2 separate regions of the Homo sapiens genome follow, and region 2 is linked to region 1. A link means that fine-mapping ties the variant in region 1 to the expression of a gene that starts in the linked region. Tissue or cell type: whole blood. Region 1 holds a variant in brackets; the other region holds the start of a gene. All regions are shown on one strand. Distances are between the middles of the regions.

What was found. PIP is the estimated chance that this variant, and not a neighbour inherited with it, causes the effect.
Region 2: NMRK1 starts here. The variant in region 1 is fine-mapped to the expression of NMRK1 in whole blood (INTERVAL, PIP above 0.99).

The regions. Positions count from the first base shown.
Region 1 is chr9:75,056,129-75,067,205 of GRCh38, forward strand. NMRK1 (nicotinamide riboside kinase 1) reads right to left here. Exons shown (of 9, transcript NM_017881.3): 8 at 10,629-10,712; 9 at 4,449-5,439. The coding sequence ends at 5,420. Among named protein-coding and RNA genes, the nearest start is that of NMRK1, 26 kb to the right of the region's middle. The variant A/G (reference allele first, on the strand shown) is at 5,234.
Region 2 is chr9:75,081,973-75,091,087 of GRCh38, forward strand. NMRK1 (nicotinamide riboside kinase 1) reads right to left here and starts at 6,183. Exons shown (of 9, transcript NM_017881.3): 1 at 6,036-6,183; 2 at 1,115-1,178. The coding sequence starts at 1,143. OSTF1 (osteoclast stimulating factor 1) reads left to right here and starts at 6,542. Exons shown (of 10, transcript NM_012383.5): 1 at 6,542-6,754. The coding sequence starts at 6,721. RefSeq lists silencers at 6,053-6,652, 6,843-6,932.

The sequences.
Region 1 (11,077 bases):
GCACCGTGACATGTTCACGATGGCCATAAAGCGCACACTGGAAGGTTGTGGGTTTACTGGAATGAGGACAAGGAACACCTGGCCCACCCAGGGCAGAAAACCGCTTAAAGGCATTCTTAAGCCACAAACAATAGCATGAGCGATCTGTGCCTTAAGGACATGCTCCTGCTGCAGTTAACTAGCCCAACCTATTCCTTTAATTCGGCCCATCCCTTTGTTTCCCATAAGGGATACTTTTAGTTAATTTAATATCTATATGAACAATGCTGATGACTGGCTTGCTGTTAATAAATACGTGGGTAAATTCCTGTTCGTGGCTCTCAGCTCTGAAGGCTGTGAGACCTCTGATTTCCCACTGCACACCTCTATATTTCTATATGTGTGTCTTTAATTCCTCTAGCACCGCTGGGTTAGGGTCTCCCTGACCGAGCTGGTCTCGGCACTTTGTCTAAAATGAAAAATGTATGTGTGCATGCTTGTATGATGTCAGGATTGTGGACTTGTCCTGTCACCAGGTAGTTGCATGGTGTTGGACAGCTTTAGTTTCAATTTCAATACTAAGATATAGTGTTGGACTAATACCTCAACATTTTGTGACTGTCATATATCACAAGCATATACTTAAAAGATAAACCATTTGGCTTGAATCTCATCCTTTAGTGTAATGGTCTGTGCATCTTTCAAACCTTTGAAATCGAACTCATGTTTAATTTAATACTAAACACAATGAAGCCTTCCTACAGCAAACTCATCTTAAAGGGACTGGGGTTATTTATGCACAGAAAGTGAAGACTTCAGCACATGTGCTCCTTGTCAAATATGTATTGTATCTTTCTAAATAGATAACAGTACCACCATTAACTCCTGTAATAAAGAGTAACTGTAATGTGAATCAGTGCATACAGAAATGAAGCACTGGTATTCTTATTTCAAATTCCTATTTATTTCTCACTGATACTAGTGAGCAAAAATATACTTATTTCTTCCCAAAATTACTGGAATGTTTTCCTTTTTGATGCATTTTTTTCTCGCAAGATATATTTTCTCTGACCTTCATATGCTGAAATGGGGAGAAAACTGATGATTCTCAATTAGCAGGGCCGTGCCTCTGCAGTGGGAAGGGGGAGAAGAGGGCATCTCAGAAATTCTTAGAAGTGAAGTTTAATAATCATATCTATACTCTATTTTTATCCTAATAAAATAAAACAAAATTCTCCTAATGTATTAATAACACAAATTACAGCAACCCAAACTTGATAAAATCATGGCCAGGGAAGTTATGCAGAAAAAGGCCGTGGTAGGCATCTTCAGTGGCTTTCCTATTTCCTCACTAAAAGATCCTTGATGTTGATCAGTGGCAACATCCCAAGGCAGAGTCACAATTGGTCTGAAACTATCATGACATCTTCCCAGCCTCCCTTGCAGGGAGAAGTGACTATATGACCCAATTCTGATGGGAAATGAGGATAGAGAGGTACACAGAAGCCAGATCAGAGAAAGCCTTGGATGCCACATTAAAATATTTGAACTTTATCCTTATTCTACCCTACACCCATTCTAAATACTGTTGATATCCCTTATCTTAAAAAGAGAAAACCAAAACTTTAAATAGCTTGATTGAACTCATAGCTACTGAGTGGATGAACTATAATTTGAGCCTGGGTTTTGTTTTTGTTTGTATTTTTTGTAGTGTGTGGGATCCAAAGAACTGTCTGGTCATCACCAAGTGAGTGCAAGCTAGTTAGAAATAAAGAAATAATGAGAGTTGACTGAGTCTGTAGAGAATGGTTAATGTAACAATATATTTTAAAGATTGAGAAAGTTGGCTGGGCATGGTGGCTCACGCCTCTAATTCCAGCACTTTGGGAGGCCAAGGCTGGCGGATCACTAGGTCAGGAGATCAAGACTATCCTGAAACCCTGTCTCTACCAAAAATGCAAAGACTAACTGGGCATGGTAGCATGCGCCTGTAGTTCCAGCTACTCAGGAGGCTGAGGTGGGAGAATCGCTTGAACCCGGGAGGCCGAGACTGCGGTGACCGAGATCGCACCACTGCACTCCAGCCTGGCAACAGAGTGAGACTGTCTCAAAGTTGGCTACATCCCTGGGATGCAAGGCTGGTTCAACATATGCAAATCAATGAACGTAATCCATCACATAAACACAACCAATGACAAAAACCACATGATTATCTCAATAGATGCAGAAAAGGCCTTCGACAAAATTCAACAGCCCTTCATGCTAAAAACTCTCAATAAACTAGGTATTGATGGAATGTATCTCAACATAATAAGAGCTATTTATGACAAACCCACAGCCAATATCATACTGAATGGGCAAAAACTGGAAGCATTCCCTTTGAATACCTGCACAAGACAAGGATGCCCTCTCTCACCACTCCTATTCAACATAGTGTTGGAAGTTCTGGCCAGGGCAATCAGGCAAGAGAAAGAAATAAAGGATATTCGATTAGAAAACGAGGAAGTCAAATTGTCCCTGTTTGCAGATGACATGACTGTATACTTAGAAAACCCCATTGTCTCAGCCCAAAATCTCCTTAAGCTGTTAAGAAACTTCAGCAAAGTCTCAGGATATAAAATCAATGTGCAAAAATCACAAGCATTCCTATACACCAATGACAAACAGAGAGCCAAATCATGTGTGAACTCCCATTCACACTTGCTTCAAAGAGAATAAAATACCTAGGAATCCAACTTACAAGGGATGTGAAGGACCTCTTCAAGGAGAACTACAAACCACTGCTTAACAAAATAAAAGAGGACACAAACAAATGGAAGAACATTCCATGCTCATTGATAGGAAGAATCAATATAGTGAAAATGGCCATACTGCCCAAGATAATTTATAGATTCAATGCTATCCCCATTAAGCTACCAATGACTTTCTTCACAGAATTGGAAAAAACTACTTTAAAGTTCATATGGAACCAAAAAAGAGCCCGCATCGCCAAGACAATCCTAAGCAAAAGGAAAAAAGCTGGAGGCAGCACGCCACCTGACTTCAAACTATTCTACAAAGCTACAGTAACCAAAACAGCATGGTACTGGTACCAAAACAGATATATAGACCAATGGAACAAAACAGAGGCCTCAGAAATAACACCACACATCTACAACCATCTGATCTTTGACAAACCTGACAAAAACAAGCAATGGGGAAAGGATTCCCCATTTATAAATGGTGCCAGGAAAAGTGGCTAGCCATATGTAGAATGCTGAAACTAGACCTCTTCCTTACACCTTATACAAAAATTAATTCAAGATGGATTAAAGACTTAAATGTTAGACCTAAAACCACAAAAATCCTAGAAGAAAACCTAGGCAATACCATTCAGGACATAAGCATGGGCAAGGACTTCATGACTAAAACATCAAAAGCAATGGCAACAAAAGCCAAAATAGACAAATGGGATCTAATTAAACTAAAGAGCTTCTGCATGGCAAAAGAAACTACCATCAGAGTGAACAGGCAACCTACAGAATGGGAGAAAATTTTTGCGATCTACTCATCTGACAAAGGGCTAATATCCAGAATCTACAAAGAACTCAAACAAATTTACAAGAGAAAAACAAACAACCCCATCAAAAAGTGGGCAAAGGATATGAACAGACACTTCTCAAAAGAAGACTTCTATGTAGCCAACAGACACATGAAAAAATGCTCATTATCACTGGTCATCAGAGAAATGCAAATCAAAACCACAATGAGATACCATCTCACACCAGTTAGAATGGTGATCATTAAAAAGTCAGGAAACAATAGATGCTGGATAGGATATGGAGAAATAGGAACACTTTTACACTGTTGGTGGGACTGTAAACTAGTTCAACCATTGTGGAAGACAGTGTGGTGATTCCTCAAGGATCTAGAACTAGAAATACCATTTGACCCAGTGATCCCATTACTGGGTATATACCCAAAGGATTATAAATCATGCTACTATAAAGACACATGCACATTTATGCTTATTGCGGCACTATTCACAATAGTAAAGACTTGGAACCAACCCAAATGTCCATCAATGATAGACTGGATTAAGAAAATGTGGCACATATACACAATGGAATACTATGCAGCCATAAAAAAGGATGAGTTCATGTCGTTTACAGGGACATGGATGAAGCTGGAAGCCATCATTCTCAGCAAACTATCACAAAGATAGAAAACCAAACATTGAATGTTCTCACTCATAGGTGGGAATTGAACAATGAGATCACTTGGATACAGGGCTGGGAACATCACACACCAGGGTCTGTCGGGGGTGGGGGGCTGGGGGAGGGATAGCATTAGGAGAAATACCTAATGCAAATGATGAGTTGATGGGTGCAGCAAACCAACATGGCACATGCATAACTATGTATCAAACCTGCACATGGTACACATGTACCCTAGAACTTAAAGTATATATAAAAAAAAGATTGAGATGGTTGTGTGTAATCTTTTTATTAATAAGCAAAAGATTGTTCAGTACATAATTTAAATTCCAGCATTGAAAGCAGCCTCAAGAGATCACACAATTCAGATCTCCTTCTGTGCTTTCCAAAGATAGGTCCCCTGGATTCCACATGATTGAAGTAATTGCTTATTTCTGTGATTTTAGACCACTGGTTTGACAAAAACAAAATGAACCACGAGGGGGGAGAAAGAAACCAGAAACCCTATTTGTAACAAAGTCTCAACAATGAGATACAATGGTATTAGATACACGCCAACACACACACACACACACACACACACACACACACACACTCAACAAAATACACAAATAATCCTAGATCTTGTAGCGAATTGTTGATTTATTCATTGTGACTGCAGCTCCTAGTAATGCTATTATTTGCAGGTGGTGAGTGTTGGTATGGGATGGTATGGAGCAACATTTTCCAAATTGTGGTTGTGATCAATATGTTTTTTATAATTAAAGACGGAAAAACATCACAGTGCATAATATATAAGGTCAATGTCTTGTGATACTTGATGTATGTATGTATCACACACACACATACACACCTACACACAAATACATAAACATACACAATGAATTCCACAGATATTGGATTGTGATGTAATCTTTATTTCTTACTCTGAGCTCCAGTTAGAAAAGTTTGACAATCATTGTTATAGAGCTATGTTCAGAAAGTGGAGACTTTCTGACTCACTGTGAGCTCTGCTGTATCTATGCGCTCCCTGGAGAGGGAGCAACTTGCTAAGGTAC[A/G]GTCCTGTCCATTGGCATGGATATTTATTGTTCCACATGTTGGGAAAACCATGTGCAATAAAAATCAAACATATGAAACAATGGCTGTCATTGTACCACAGTATACATTGTATCTTGGTGAAGGTTCTTAAATTACTCCTTGGAGTTTCCTAATTCACTTCAGGAAGGATTTGTTGTGTTCCGTCTTTATGCTGTCACTTGCAAACCTTGGGAATAAACATAAAAAGAAATTAATGGAGAATTCCAATTCTCATTTTATTAAATCTTTACATCAACAACAGTAAATCTAAGGATGTTTAAATTAGAGGGATTCTGGAGCCAAAAATGCTGGTTTCCTGTAAAGAACTAAATTGAGTCCAAGTCCCATTCTTTTAATCCCTGCATTAAATTTGAAGCATACCTTAAAATATCAGATAGATATCCAATATCACTTGTAGTTCGTATAGTAATCCTTGACTTCAGAGAATGATATAGTTTGAAGACTAGAATAAAACCACAAAGGGTAGTTGTCTGCAGTATAATCCTTGTTTTGGAGTGTTATCCTTGATGTGGGGAAAGTATTGTTACTTTAATCCCTTTTCTTAAACGAAGGAAGCCCAGTGGAATACTTGATTTGGCATAGAAATTCAATGATAAACCTACCACATTCTTATTACACAGCTGATGTTGCAAAGCACACATTTTTTGGGTAGTATTTCATTTTTGAAATATGTAAAATGTAAAAATGATTACATCCTTTGACTACATAAGTGACACTTCTGGGAATTTACTCCAGGGATATAATTCAAAAAGAAGACAACCAACAAAGAGTAGGTGTAGATATTTTTTATGGCATGTGATATATCCATGTGAAACACTTGTAACAACAGTAAATATCCAACAATTGGGAAATGGTTAAGTGATCTTATGTTAATTTGGACTACTGTACCAGATAATTATACTATAATTTTATAATGAGATTATATTTTATATTTAATGAGAAAAATACAAACATCTGATAATTAAATTTTATTTTGCAACTTCTTATTCTTTTGATTTGGAACTAGACATGTGACATGTTTCTTCTGTACTAAAGGGTCAATGTCAAGTCTTACATTTCTCTTCAGTGTACAAAACAGAACTCAGCCTTGATTTTTTTTTTAACTGGAAGAGCTACTTAGTTTCATTATATAATGAAATCTATAAAGCTGCATAAATATTAAATACTAATTTAAAAACAGAGATAAGCATGGCTGATTAACTACACTGTCCTTGCAGTCTTGTAAAAGACAGATTGATGTGAACAGCAAAAAGACTGGATGTGTACTCATTAAAATGTTAACACTAATGATTGGAGGGAACACAGGTAATTACTTCCTCCCTTTTGCTTTCTATTAAACATTTAAAAAGGCTGAGCATGGTGGCTGATGCCTGTAATCCCAGCACTATGGGAGGCCAAGGCAGACGGATTACCTGAGGTCAGGAGTTTGAGACCAGCCTGATCAACATAGCAAAACCCCGTCTTAACTAAAAATACAAAAATTAGCAGGGCGTGGTAGTGCGTACCTGTAATCCCAGCTACTTGGGAGGCTGAGGTAGGAGATCACCTGAACCCAGAAGGTGGAGGTTGCAGTGAGCTGAGATCGTGCCACTGCACTCCATCCTGGGCGACAGAACAACTCCATATTGGCTGGGCACAGTGGTTCACACCTGTAATCCCAGCATTTTGGGAGGCCGAGGCGGGCGGAGGTCAGGAGATTGAGATCACCCTGGCTAACATGGTGAAACCCCGTCTCTACTAAAAAAATATAAAAAATTAGCCAGGTGTGATGGCTGGCACCTGTGGTCTCAGTTACTCGGGAGGCTGAGGCAGGAGAATGGTGTGAACCCAGGAGGCGGAGCTTGCAGTGAGCCGAAATTGTGCCACTGCACTCCAGCCTGGGCGACAGAGCGAGACTCCATCTCAAAAAAAAAAAAAAAGAAAGAAAAAAAGACTCCATATGAGAAAAATAAAAAATAAAAATAAATAAAACAAAAAATAAAAAACCTTAAAAATAATGTTTTTATAATGAGGTGAAAATAAATGTTTTTAAAGGGAGTTTGAATGTTCCTGGTGGCTAGACTACTTTGTTTTAGTAAGAATAAGGAAATAATTAAATTTTGCCTCATACTTTGGATTTAAATAAGGATTAAATTAAATGTGTAACTCCATTCTCTTACTCTGTTGGATAATTTATTGTTTCATTAACAATTAAATTCAGTCTTTCTTGTTTCCCCTTCATTATTATTACCTTATCATAATTATGATTTTATGTACTTAAGACTGAAAAATTAGCTAAACAAGTTTATGAGATGTGAGAAAAAAAACCCTGAAGATTAGTCACTAGAAACACTGAAAGGCCTCCCCAGCTAGCTCAGTGTGTGTCATACTCAGGGTTAAACCAGGCTATGCTGAGGGTACCTTCAGGAAAGCTTTGCCAGGATACTGTGGATGGAAGAAATAGGAAAGGTGATAGGTTACTAGAAATAAAACAGTAACTTATTTATGTAACTGAGAAAAACCAGCATAAATGTTGGAGGTAAGAAAAGCTGATGTATTTCTGTTTTTATCCCTCTTTTAAGTTTTTTTTTTAAACTTTAACTAATATCTAGAAGCCTCAAATGGCATAGCTAAATACTTTCCTGCCTGCCTCTAGGATGTAGGGAAGGAAGGAGGGGCGTCACAACACAGGGAAATGCACTTTCTTGTGAGCTAGCAGCACCTGTCAAAACATGTCAGCTGTTCTTGGGCTTTGGAACAGATGGTGAAGACTGAATTTGGAATGGAGCTGGTTGCAATTTACCTGAGCTACATGACAAAGGCTACTTTCATCTTTATCAGTAGGTAGATCATAAGGCCAAACTCCAGTGTATCACTTAGTCATAAAGGAAAGCTGGACCCAAGCACTGGCCATTGCTGAGAAGACAAAGAGCTATAGGTGTCCAACAGCTGAAACACTCCTGGAAGTGCCTCATTAGGGACAGAAAGGGGAGCCAATAACTCTCAGAGAAGTGGCTCTGGCTCATGTGCTATCATTTATGAAGGCTGAGCCCCTCCCTTCACCCCACACCCTCTATATCCACTCATGTTGGTGCTCTGAGATTCATTATGGAAGGCCTGACTTTCATCAAAGTAACAGATGGCAGGAGTGGGCGGGCATATCTGGCAAGGATTCTAAATTCTACTTGCAAGAAGAAAATTTAAAATGGTCCTGAAATTCCTTCAAATGGGTTCATGCCTATATGATGGGCTGATCCTGAAATCAACAATGTTTAGGATCAATGAGCTGCCTAGTTGGGCTCAGTCTCCTAGTCAAAGAGGAATTTATTGAGGATGTAGGTAGGAAATCTAATTCTTACTGAGGAAGGACAACATTTGGACTAGGGCAATTGCTTCTCACCAAAAAAAACATATAATATTCTTCACTGCTGGAGTGAGTCATACTGTCTTCTCTGAGCCAGCTGATGATTGCATTTTGCTGGTGTTAGCCATGGAAGTTCTTTTAATTCAAATAGTTCAAATATAACAACAGCTACATCTACAGTTTTGTCCCTTAAGCATGTTTTTTCGACTTTCTTCTTCTGGTTTCTACCTCCTGCCCTGCTTTCTCTTTGGGAAATTTTTGATTTTTTAATTTTTAGAAATAGGGCTGTCTGTCTCCCAGGGTGGAGTGCAATGGCACATTCATGGCTCACTGCAGCCTTGACTTCCTGGGCTAAAGCCATCCTCCCACCTCAATACCCTGAGTAGCTGAGATTATAGGCACGTGCCACTATGCCCAGCTAATTTTTTATTTTTATTTTTTTGAGACAGAGTCTCACTCTGTCACCAGACTGGAGTGCAGTGGCGTGCAATCTTAGCTCACTGCAATGTCTGCCCCCGGAGTTCAAGAGATTCCCCTGCCTCAGCCTCCCGGGTAGCTGGGACTGCAGGCGCGCACCACCACACCTGGCTAATTTTTTGTATTTTAGTAGAGACGGGGTTTCACCATGTTGGCCAGGATGGTCTGGATCTCCTGACCATCATGATCTGTCTGCCTCGGCCTCCCAAAGTGCTGGGATTACAGATGTGAGCCACTGTGCTTGGTAGCTAATTTTTAAAAAATTTTAATTTTTGTAGAAATGGAGTCCCTCTCACTATGTTGCTCAGGCTGGTCTTGAACTCCTGGCCCCAAGCAATCCTCCCAATTTAGCCTCCCAAAGTGCTGGGATTATAAACGTGAGCCATTGCAACTGGCCAGAGAAATTTTTAAAATCAGAAGGTGTTAGGTGGGGTATTCAATTACAAGATGGGTTATGTGATGTAGGCCTGGCCAATCAGAGTATGCCATCTCCCTGGCCATAGTGATTGGTTTGGCAAGTCATGTGATCCAGCAGGACCAATCATCTGGGCTACAACAGAACATTGCTTTTTAGAAAACTATTTAAAATAAAGAATTTCAAATTTATGCAAAAGAAGTGAGAATAAATATGAACCTCCTTGTACTCAATATCCAGCTCCAACATTTATCAACTCGTTGTCAAATCTTGAAAAAGATATCTTTTTACCCTGGGACTGATGGACCTAGGAGGATGTTGTTGTCAACAGACATCAGGTCAGTGGAGAGCCTGACTTCAAAATAAACCCTAAATAGAAAGTAGAATAGAAGCAGAGTCCTGAGGACCTTATTTGAGTTCCTTAACCCATTAATGTTGGAGGTTGCAAATTATTTTTGTGAAAAACGAGACCTTGGTGATGACCTTCAGCAGTAGGATATAAATAACTCCTACAAGCTTAGAGTTCCAACAATGGAACACTAGGCATAAATGAGTTAATCCAGCTGAGCCTGAAGCCACCATTACCCCTGTACTGTCTTTCTGCTGTAGCCATATTTAGGCAGATCCCTGTCACTTGCAAACAGTGCCGTCCAATATGAAAACCTTAAACAAACACTTCATAATACTTTTTAAAATCTTTTGTTTATCTTTGAGGTATTTGGAAAGTAGAAATTTTACAGAAAGTCTTTAAGGGAATAAAAGAAAAGGGGAGCTCTGGACATACTAAAAAAAATCATCAGCATTTTAATTATACTGTGCCCAAAGGATACTTCCAGTCCCATTTGGTACAGCCATCTACTAAAAGTTTTAAAGTAAATCACATAAATAGCATTAAGAGATGTAACAAAGGGTACATGGTTTTACCCCTAAAAACAGACAAAATAATTGAGTCTCCAAACCCCCCCCCAGAATTTCTGATTCTGAATTATCCTCAAAGCAAAGAATGGATGAGCACAATCACTCCTACACTAGCATTCTGGTATTCCATTCTTTCATATGTAATGAATGATTTTCCTGGCTGTTTCTCCTCTACCATCCACTTTGTTAGCACAATACTTACACTTTTGCTTTGCTAGTTCTTGTATTAGATCTTCATATACTTGCAAAAAGAGGTCCTCTTCAGATTTTGTTCCATCCAGGTACACTACGAAGGGGAAAAGAGAGCAGTTCAAATGCTAACAGGCTTATTAATATACAATGTTTACTTTGACACCCAACATCTCTTGTAAATGCCAATAGGTTTAACCAAGGCACCCAGGACCATAACTTAAAAGGAAATTAATAGTGATTAAAGAAAGAAATAGATGCTAGCCAGCTATAATAGGTCAAAAATATTGGATTGTTACAGATAAATCCACACTGGCTTATGTGAAAATTATTTAATTAAAAGAGAAGAGAAAGAAAGAAGAAAGGAGGAAAGAAACAGAAGAAAGAAAGTGGTGTTGTGCATACGGCACTTTAGGTGCACTGAAGGTGTTCACCCAAAAGGGTCACTTAAGGAGTAATTCT
Region 2 (9,115 bases), 25 kb after region 1:
ACCACTGAGCTCCTGTATCAAATTTTTCCCGCAGCCTGCTACCCCTGAGGCTAATACATTTCCTTTATTACTTACAGATGGCCTTCATACATCATGATATTCAGATTTAATTCTCAATAACTCGGAACCACTGAATATCATTCATCAGGCAGATAATCAAAATGTTCTGTATGAAGATTAAACTGATAGAGGTGTGTAGGAAAGATTAGAAGGGAAAGATGGGGACTAGGGAATGACAGCCTGTATCAGGATGGTGGCAGTGAGGGTGAGAAGGAAGAGAAACACAAGAGAAGTACTGCAGAGAAAAACTGAACTTTTCTTCTGGTTAGATGGGAGGCAAAGCAGAGTTCTAACATTTAGTTCACTCAATTTTACTTCTGATTGATGACTTACTATGGTAATGTAATACCATAACACAATGATTTCCCCAAAATTACAAACAAAGTAGTCTCAGATATTTTATTAATTGGGTCACAAACAATGTGAATATACTTAGAGTAAAGGTGAACATAATATGGTAGCAAAACAAATAATGTCATTTTCAGTTGATGTTGATGTTTTATTTGCATGCCTGCCTATGGCACCACAGGTAGGATGACCATATAATTTAGAACATGTTTGAGAGAAAGAGAGGTGCATCCAGGGCCACAAGGATTAGCTTGGGCAACATGGGACATAAGGCCACCCAAAACATGGGGGAAAGGAATGGAGGTGAAGGTGTTCTGTATACCAAATGTCTGAAGCTGGGCACAGCTGGAAAGAAACTAAGTTTTCTCCTCCATCGTGATGAAGGAGAATGATATGGGGAATGATAAATCATCCTGAATGAAAGCAGTGCCCAATCAGACCTTGTCTCTGGTGTTAGCTCCACAAAATAAATGGGAAAGTGGGTAAATGTGGTTGACTGACTCTTCTGTTTCTCTGTTTATAGAAAACTCTTCCATCTCTTGTTGGCATTTATGAAGCCAGTGCTCCACTGATATTCCACAGTGGTCTGCTCTTCCCCAGGACTCTGGAATCCTCACTGCTTCTCCGTCCCCCACTCCATCCACACAGAAACACCATTTGGACATCCTCAGTATCTTAAAGAGCTGTTTGTAGCAAAATTACTCACCCACTGATTCCAATGATAAATGTTTTCATAATTAGCTTTGAAAATCACAGCTTCCTAATATTTCCTAAAAGTAAAAAAACAAACAAACAAATCAAATGCATTTCATTTAGATGTCTAGGGAGATAAAAGAATCCTAAATTAGGAGCACCAGCTGAGAGGGGAGGATGACAGTGACCTTTCAGCCCAGCCCCGCATTATCCACATTCCCGCCGCACTGGCTTCCCCTGCTACCACTGAGTGCCAACCACTGGGGTGTGCTCAGGACTGTCAAACAGTTCAACGTCAGGTGACCTGCCGGAGCACTCCCCCTTGAACGTCTGTTTTCTGGGCGTGGAAGAACTGCTAGGCCACAGCGTGGTATATGAAGTTTCATCCTCTCCTTAGCCAGGTTGCCTTCCACCTTCACGATTCAGTCGCCTGGGTATGACTCATTATCAGTGAGGGAGGGACCCCTGTGGGCTGGCCTCTTTCTCCCCTCATGAGACAAGGAAAAAGTCACTGCTGACCAGAGGCAAAAAGAAGCTAATGCCGTTTAAAGATACTGCCCTTATGAGACAAGAAGAAAGTTACTGCTGGCCAGAGGCAAAATGAAGCTAATGCCGTTTAAAGACACTATTTCTTCACCCAAAAGCCTAGGTCTTGGGCCTGGCTAGGTACATTTTTTTTGGAAACAGGCCAGACAGTAAATATTTGACACTATGTGGGCCAAGAGGCAAAATCTAGGTTGTTATGTATGGACTTATATAACAAGAGAAAAAACATTTTCACAATTTTTTTTGATGAAATTCAACATATAATCATAATTTTTTTAACAGGTCTACTAATGACAAGAATGAAATTCCCTTTTATTGGGCTATCATTTCTCTTAATTGGATTTCTGTTGTGCTTTCTACATGAAACTGCAAATGTTCAGGCAGAGGGCCAAGTTAAGCCACCGGCCACTGTTTTGTGGATTTTTGGTTTAGGGGATGGAGGGCAGTTTCATACATGCCTCCCTAACGTTCACTAAAGTAGTCCTTGGTTATTACAATGGGCCATTTTTCTCACTAAGTGAAAAGGTGAAGCACAGCTGGAGGGAATCTTAGAATAGTGGCTCCTGAAGGTCATCCCTGAAGGCCACTCTTCTTCCTTCCTATCTGCTCAGGGGGGTTGCCAGGGACCTAGGCCGTGTAGCCAGGGGCAAGCGGCTGCCTGCCAAGCTGGAGGCTCCCAGCAATGCTCCAGTTTCTATGATCTGTGTCCACACTCTCCCTGGGGAGGGGTTATGCAGAAAAAAGCCTGGTGGGAAGAGGGCTATTGTTGTCTGACTTCTTGGCTTATCTAAATATCCCACATTGAGTACAATTGCTTAAGACTGGGGTCCACTTCCATTAACAAGTCTATGTGAGACAAGAATCAATAATGACTGTGATAAAATAGCAGCAGGGCACTGTGGCTCATGCCTATAATCCCAGCACTTTGGGAGGCCAAGGCAGGCGGATTGCTTGAGCTCAGGAGGTTGAGACCAGCCTGGGCAACATGGCAAAACGCTACCTCTACCAAAAATACAAAAGATTATCCAGGCATGGTGGCATGCTCCTGTAGTCCCAGCTACTTCGGAGGCTGAGGTGGGAGGATTGCTTGAGCCTACAAGGTGGGGGTAGCAGTGAGTGGAGATTGAGCCGCTGCACTCCAGCCTGGGTGGCAGAGTGAGGCCCTGTCTTAAAAAATAAAATAAAATAGCAGACAAGTTGCATATTTAAGTTTCATCCAGAGTTATGTTGTTGAATACACATCTCCATCCAAATTTACAAGATGTATCGAGGGAATGACTGCATACAATGAATATTGTAAAATACATTTTTATGTTGTAATTTTTCTGCTTTTGAATTTTATTTTACCCTATTCTTATTTTTTTGGTATGTCGGTTCAATGCTGCCAATTAGCCTTTTTTTGGGAAGGGAGAGGCTGCTCTTTATCTCACTTTTGTGGTGATAAATGTTCTTTCTCTTACAAAACTATGTTGTCAGAAGATGTTAGTAGAGTGATATCCTCACTTTACCAAATAAAATAAAAATTCATAAAACCTTGTCATTCCTTGCCCCCATTATTTTTGGATAGCTCGCTGAAGCATAAATTCTCAAACTTGGAGAAGTATAGCTTTAGCGATTACTTGGTCTACCCCTTCATTTTGCATAAGTGGAAACTGGCTCAGACAATAGAGCAATTTGCCTAAGGTCACACAGACAGTAAGTGGAAAAGCCAGATATTAAACTAAACCAATTGAGCTGACTTCTTTCTATCACTCCAAGCTGCTAAAAAGCACTTTATTACTAACAGCAAAGAAAGGGTGTTAGGTATGTGCTAGCTTAATTGTCAGGCTCTGATGTATAATTGATGTCATTCTTACTGATGTATTATTGATGGGGCATCTATTTGCTGTGCACACAGAATGGAAAGGACTACTGGTCCCCGTCCTAAACTGCCACATCTGTGGTTACACGTGTGACCATTGCATCAATTACATGGCATGTAAATAACAAGTGAGCATGGTTGTGGCATGGGAAATAGGCTTGAGGGGGTTACTTGCATTCAGGAACCAGGAGTAAGATGGCATAAAAAACCTACTTATAAAATCTCTCAGATACAGTCAAATGTAAGTTTTTTTTTTTTTTTTTTTTTTTTTTTAACCAAAACAGGAACTCCCAGTTCTACATTAGTTAGCAGTCTGGGCCTGTCCAAGCCAGTGTTTGGGTAAATGCTGGGCATACCCTATCAGCTATGAGCAAGTGACAATGTGATGGGAAGGGTGGGTAACTGGAACATGCAGAGACAAGAGAGGCAACTGGGCTAAGTGACTAGGGCGGGGTGGGGGGTGGGCCTAGCAATCCCTGAAGGCATTTATTTCAAAAACAGTGTGGATGCACAGGGCAGCTTTAGGGGAGCTCCAAGTTCAGGCCTGGCACTGTCCACCTCCACATCACATTCTACTATTTCATTGCCTGTTGCCCCTATAAAAAAAATCACCAAGGCTGCAGTGAGCCATGACTGTGCCACTGCATTGCAGCCTTGGTGACACAGCGAGACCCTATCTTGAAAAAAACCAAAACAAACAGGCAAAAAACAACCCAAAAACTGCCTCCCATAAAACCAAAAACAAAACAAAAAATCAAATTTAAAAAGCTCGCAATTGAGTTGCCAGGCTTCATGAAGCAAATGCAAGCTTCGTACAAACTGTAAATCATGTGATGTGTCCAAAGAGTCATCATTTCAGGGCACGTCTATCACTAGAATCCACACCACCTTCAATCTCATGGAATATCTGTGTAGTTTATTTTCCCAGTGCGTGCAAGGCTTTCCTCAACAGCGGAGAGCTTTTGCATAGCAGGAGAACAAACTAGGATAGCCAAGAGCAAACCTGAAATGACTAATTTTATTTTTTACACTTTTTTTTAACCCTAAGTAAAATGTTGGGTTTTTTAAAATAATTCAGGTGTGTTTATTATGCTTAATTCATTTCACTACTAAACACTTGCCTTTTGGATTCTAAACTGCAGAATGGTCAGAAGTGGCATGTGCAGAATCAGCAGATTGTACGAACTCTCTAACGCAGCTCTCTAACGCAAATGATCTGAAAGACAGCTGACAAAGCTAAATGTGCTCTTCAAATGTATCTACAGGACAGTCTGATATTTTAAAAAGAGAAAAATGTTTCCAGGACTTCTTACTCTGTATTCTATCCAACAGCTATTTTGATTCTCTTCTTCCAGGAGATAGGGCAGTCTTTTCCTACTATTGTTTAAACTTTGCTCCCTTTTGGTAAACAAATCCCTCAAGGCTGGGTTTTTTTTTTTTTTTTAAGACAGAGTCTCGCTCTGTTGCCAGGCTGGAGTGCAGTGGCGCAATCTCGGCTTACTGCAACCTCCGCCTTCTGGGTTCAAGTGATTCTCCTGCCCCAGCCTCCCGAGTAGCTGGGACTACAGGCGTCTGCCACCACGCCCGGCTAATTTTTTGCAGTTTTAGTAGAGATCGGGTTTCACCAGGTTGGCCAAGATGGTCTTGATCTCTTGACCTCGTGATCCACCCGCCTTGCCCTCCCAAAGTGCTGGGATTACAGACGTGAAGGGCTGGGGTTTTTGAAAACGCAATTCATGCCCCTCCCCCATTGGTTTCATTTATGTAGGTTCTTAGGTAAACAGTTTTTTCTTTCCCCAAATATACAATTAATTTACAATATTGACTGTTATTTTGAACTTATGCCATTGGCTTCCTTGTGTGCTCCAGTTCTTTCCTCCCACCGAAGATTCAATCCGATAGATCAGGGGTAGGAAAACTTTTTCTGTAAAGTGCCAGACAGGAAATGCTTTGGGCTTTGCCAGCTGCTACTCAACCCTGCTGGGTAATGCGAAAGCGGCCACAGAAAACACAGATGCAAATGAGCGTGACCGTGTTCCAGTAAAATTTTACGGACACTGAAATCGTAATTTCATGTAATTTTCACGTGTCACAAAGTATTATATTTCTTTTTATTTCTTTTCAGTCATTAAAAAAAGTAAAAAAAAAAAAAATTCTTAGCAGGCCTTACAGTAACAGGCAGCAGGCGGGCAGTAGGTCATCACCCCAACGCTAGAGGAATGAGACCATATCGATCCGCGAGGATCAAGTCCTGATCCTGTCCCTGGCGACTTCTCCAGGCTGCGCGGTCTCTTGGAGGCAGCGTTCCCATTTTCAGGATTATTCCGGGGCGCTAGAGCACCACGCCACCATGAGTACACGTCCTCCTCGGCAGGCCACCTATCAGCTCTGTGAGGGTGGCAAGAGTCCAGGCAAGGCTTTCAGGGCGCAACCAAGTCCCGGGCTCCAGCACAGAAACCCTCTGGAAACACCTCCAGGCCCCAGCAAGGCGGCGCGGCGCGGCAGGGGCGAGCAGGTACGCACTCACCTGGCGCCAGTTCGAGTCCTCCCAAACACAGCGGCAGAGGCGACAGCCAAGCGCGCGCCTGTACCCAGTGCGCCGCTACCCGCAGCTCGCTCCCCGAGAGGCCCACAGCCCCTTTCCCCACGCTCCTCCTGGGTTAGAGGGATGCCAGGTAGGGGCGGTCACCAGAGGCCCCTTTTCTCTACTCTCGGCGCCGGGTTCCAGCCCCCGTTGGGGCGGGGCGGGGCGGGGCGGGGCTCCGGCTAGCTTGGCCTCTTCCGCGCGCCCCTGCGCAGCTCCGGCCCTTCCCTATCGGGAGCGCGCGCGGCCCGCGGCACTGCACTGGCGCACGCCCGCTTCGCCCTCGCTCGGCTCCGGCTGGTTCCGCCGCCGTGCGCGCCGCCCGCGCTCCTGCTGCGGCGAAGCTGCCAGCCCGGGAGCCAATTAGCGCTCGGCTAGGCGGGGTCCACTTCCTCGTCGGCCCGGCGCGCGCTCTGGACTGCTCCGGCGGCCGCGGGGCGGGGCGGAGCACTCGGCGGAGCCGCTCTGCCTGCGTCCGCTCTTCCCGCAGCCAAGGGTGGGCGCCGGTCCTAGGAGGCGCACGGTTGTAAGCCAGACAAAAAGAACTGGGGTGCCCGGAGTGCCAGGTGGCGGGCAAGCGGTGGGCTTTTCGGCGGGGTCTTTAGGATTTGCAGCTCCAGGAAGCGAGATGTCGAAGCCGCCACCCAAACCAGTCAAACCAGGTGAGGGAGGTAAGGTAGGCGCTTGCCAGGTCCTGCGACCGCCGCGGTGCCGGCGCCTCCTCTGCAGCTTGGCAGGGAGGACCCGGCGCGCACCCGGCCCCGAGCCTGGCTTCCGAGATCGGCCCCACCGGGATGGGCGCTCTTAGTTTTGCGTTCGCTGTTACGGAGGAGGGATCGATTTTGATAGCAAGAGGATTTCGAGGATTAATATATATATATATATTTAAAGGGGAGTAGCCCTCACTTTTGCTACGTTGTCATTCGCTGAAACTTTCAGAGGGTGTGATGGCAACGTCCCATGGAAGTTTTCCGGAAAGACAGGGCCATTGATCTCCCTTTAAAAAATGTCATGAAATGATCTTTAGCCACTTCCTCTTTTCTCAGTGTTTGTCACTGTCAAGTTAGGGTTCCTGACCGGCCAGAGCGAACGGGAAGTGCAATCCCTGCAGGGTGGGGTGGGCGAGCGAGCCTCCCTCGGGACTTAAGCGTGGAGCAGCGTTTGAAATTGACCTCGGGATCTTGGGAAGAGCGTTTAGAAAAAAACCCTATACTCGCGCTCCTGGTGGAAAGAATCTAGGATGCGGCAGTGATCTCAGCTGTTGCTATTTGGAAGTGTCATTTTATCATCTCCTTTGCCTTTGCTCTCCCAAAGACGTTGGCGTGCTAAACCTGAGAGGGCTGAGATTACTAAATTCCTCAAAGCAGTTTTCTGGGCGGATTGTCCTTGTTCATTTTTGCTCTGTTCTTAGAATATTTTCTGTGATATGCAGAAATAAGATAATTGTAAAAGAAACTGACGTATTTTAATTAAAAGTTGTAACATACTGTTCCGCTCATTCATTTGGGTAGGTAATTAGAAAGGACTGACGTATTTCAATACTTTAACAACTCTTACGTGCATTCATTTGGGTAGGTAATTAAGGGAAATACAGGAAATGGAAGATAAATGGCTCCGATGTATTCTTGGGTTTTTTCTTCCCATAGTGTAATTTCGGTATAGCGAAATGCTGAAATTTAATCCATTTACGTCAAATTTTGAAGTAACTTTCTTTGCAAGAGATGAGTTTCAGTGATTACTTTTTTCCTTGATTTTCCTAAACTCTATAGCTTTCATACTTATCTAGTTTTGTTTCTTTGCGTTCCTGCAGTTGGAGTATGAAGTCCCTTTATTTGATAATCATGTACGTACGTATGTGGAATAGTGCTTCACTGAGGACTGACATCTTGGTGGGCTGAGTGTGAAGGAAGTTGCTGAGACTGGCTCTGCCCTGGGCAAAGATGGGGCACAGCTAGAGTTGGGTTCTGCATTGCATTAGATGTGGAATCTGATGAGAAATTTCCATTTTAAGTGCATATGTATGAGGTAGCTTTCTAAACTCAGGTGCAAATCAGGACCTTAAGTATCTAACAGTGCAGAGTTGTTCTTTGATAGCTAAACAATATTTTATTTATCTTATTTTTTTCTGATCACCTGCTGCCAGTTGAAATACGTTAAAGAATGCCCTTTTTAAAAATCTCTTCATGCGTATTAAATGCTGTCTATATTGCAAATGGAGGGACATTGACAGGTGTGTGTGTGTGTGTGTGTGTGTGTGTGTGTGTGTACACAGTAATGTATACATGTGGGTTCATTCACACTTGGGGGTTTAAGGGTCATCCTGTTACTAATTGTGGATACATTCCCAGGAACCTCCTTTCTCCTTCACATCAGAAAGCTTATGGTTAAACATGACAGGTGTTTAGAGGGAACTTTGCATTTTATTTTATTTTAATTTGTTTTATCTGGTCCTTGATTCAGGATAAAGGGAATTTTGAATCAACATTAATTTACAAATGAGATCCAGACACAAAGTTACCATAGAAATGGGTTTGCCAGTTTAGTAATTTACAGTGAGAAACATTACTGCCAATCAGAGTTGAAACTTTGTGTGGGCTAGCTTAGTTGAAGAAAAAAAAAAAGCGATGGCCAGGAGCAGTGGGCCATGCCTGTAATCCTAGCACTTTATGAGGCTGAGGTGGGAGGATTGCTTGAGGCTAGGAGTTTGAGACTAGCCTGGGCAACATAGCAAGACCCCGTCTCAACAGAGTACAAAAAACAAAAACAGAAATGTCCTATCGTAGTACTGTCCCACATTTACTGTGTGTTAGGCAATGGTATAGTCACTTTACACGTGTTAACACATTTGCTGCTCTCAACAATCTTATGAGATCAGTACCATTATATTGTTCCTGTTGCACAGATGGGGAAATAAAGATGCGCAGAAATGTTATTTAACTTGTCTAAAGTCAACAGTTAGAGTGGGGGATGTAGCAGGCAGTATTAAAACCCAGGTAGTCTGGCTTTGAAGTCTGCACTTTTTT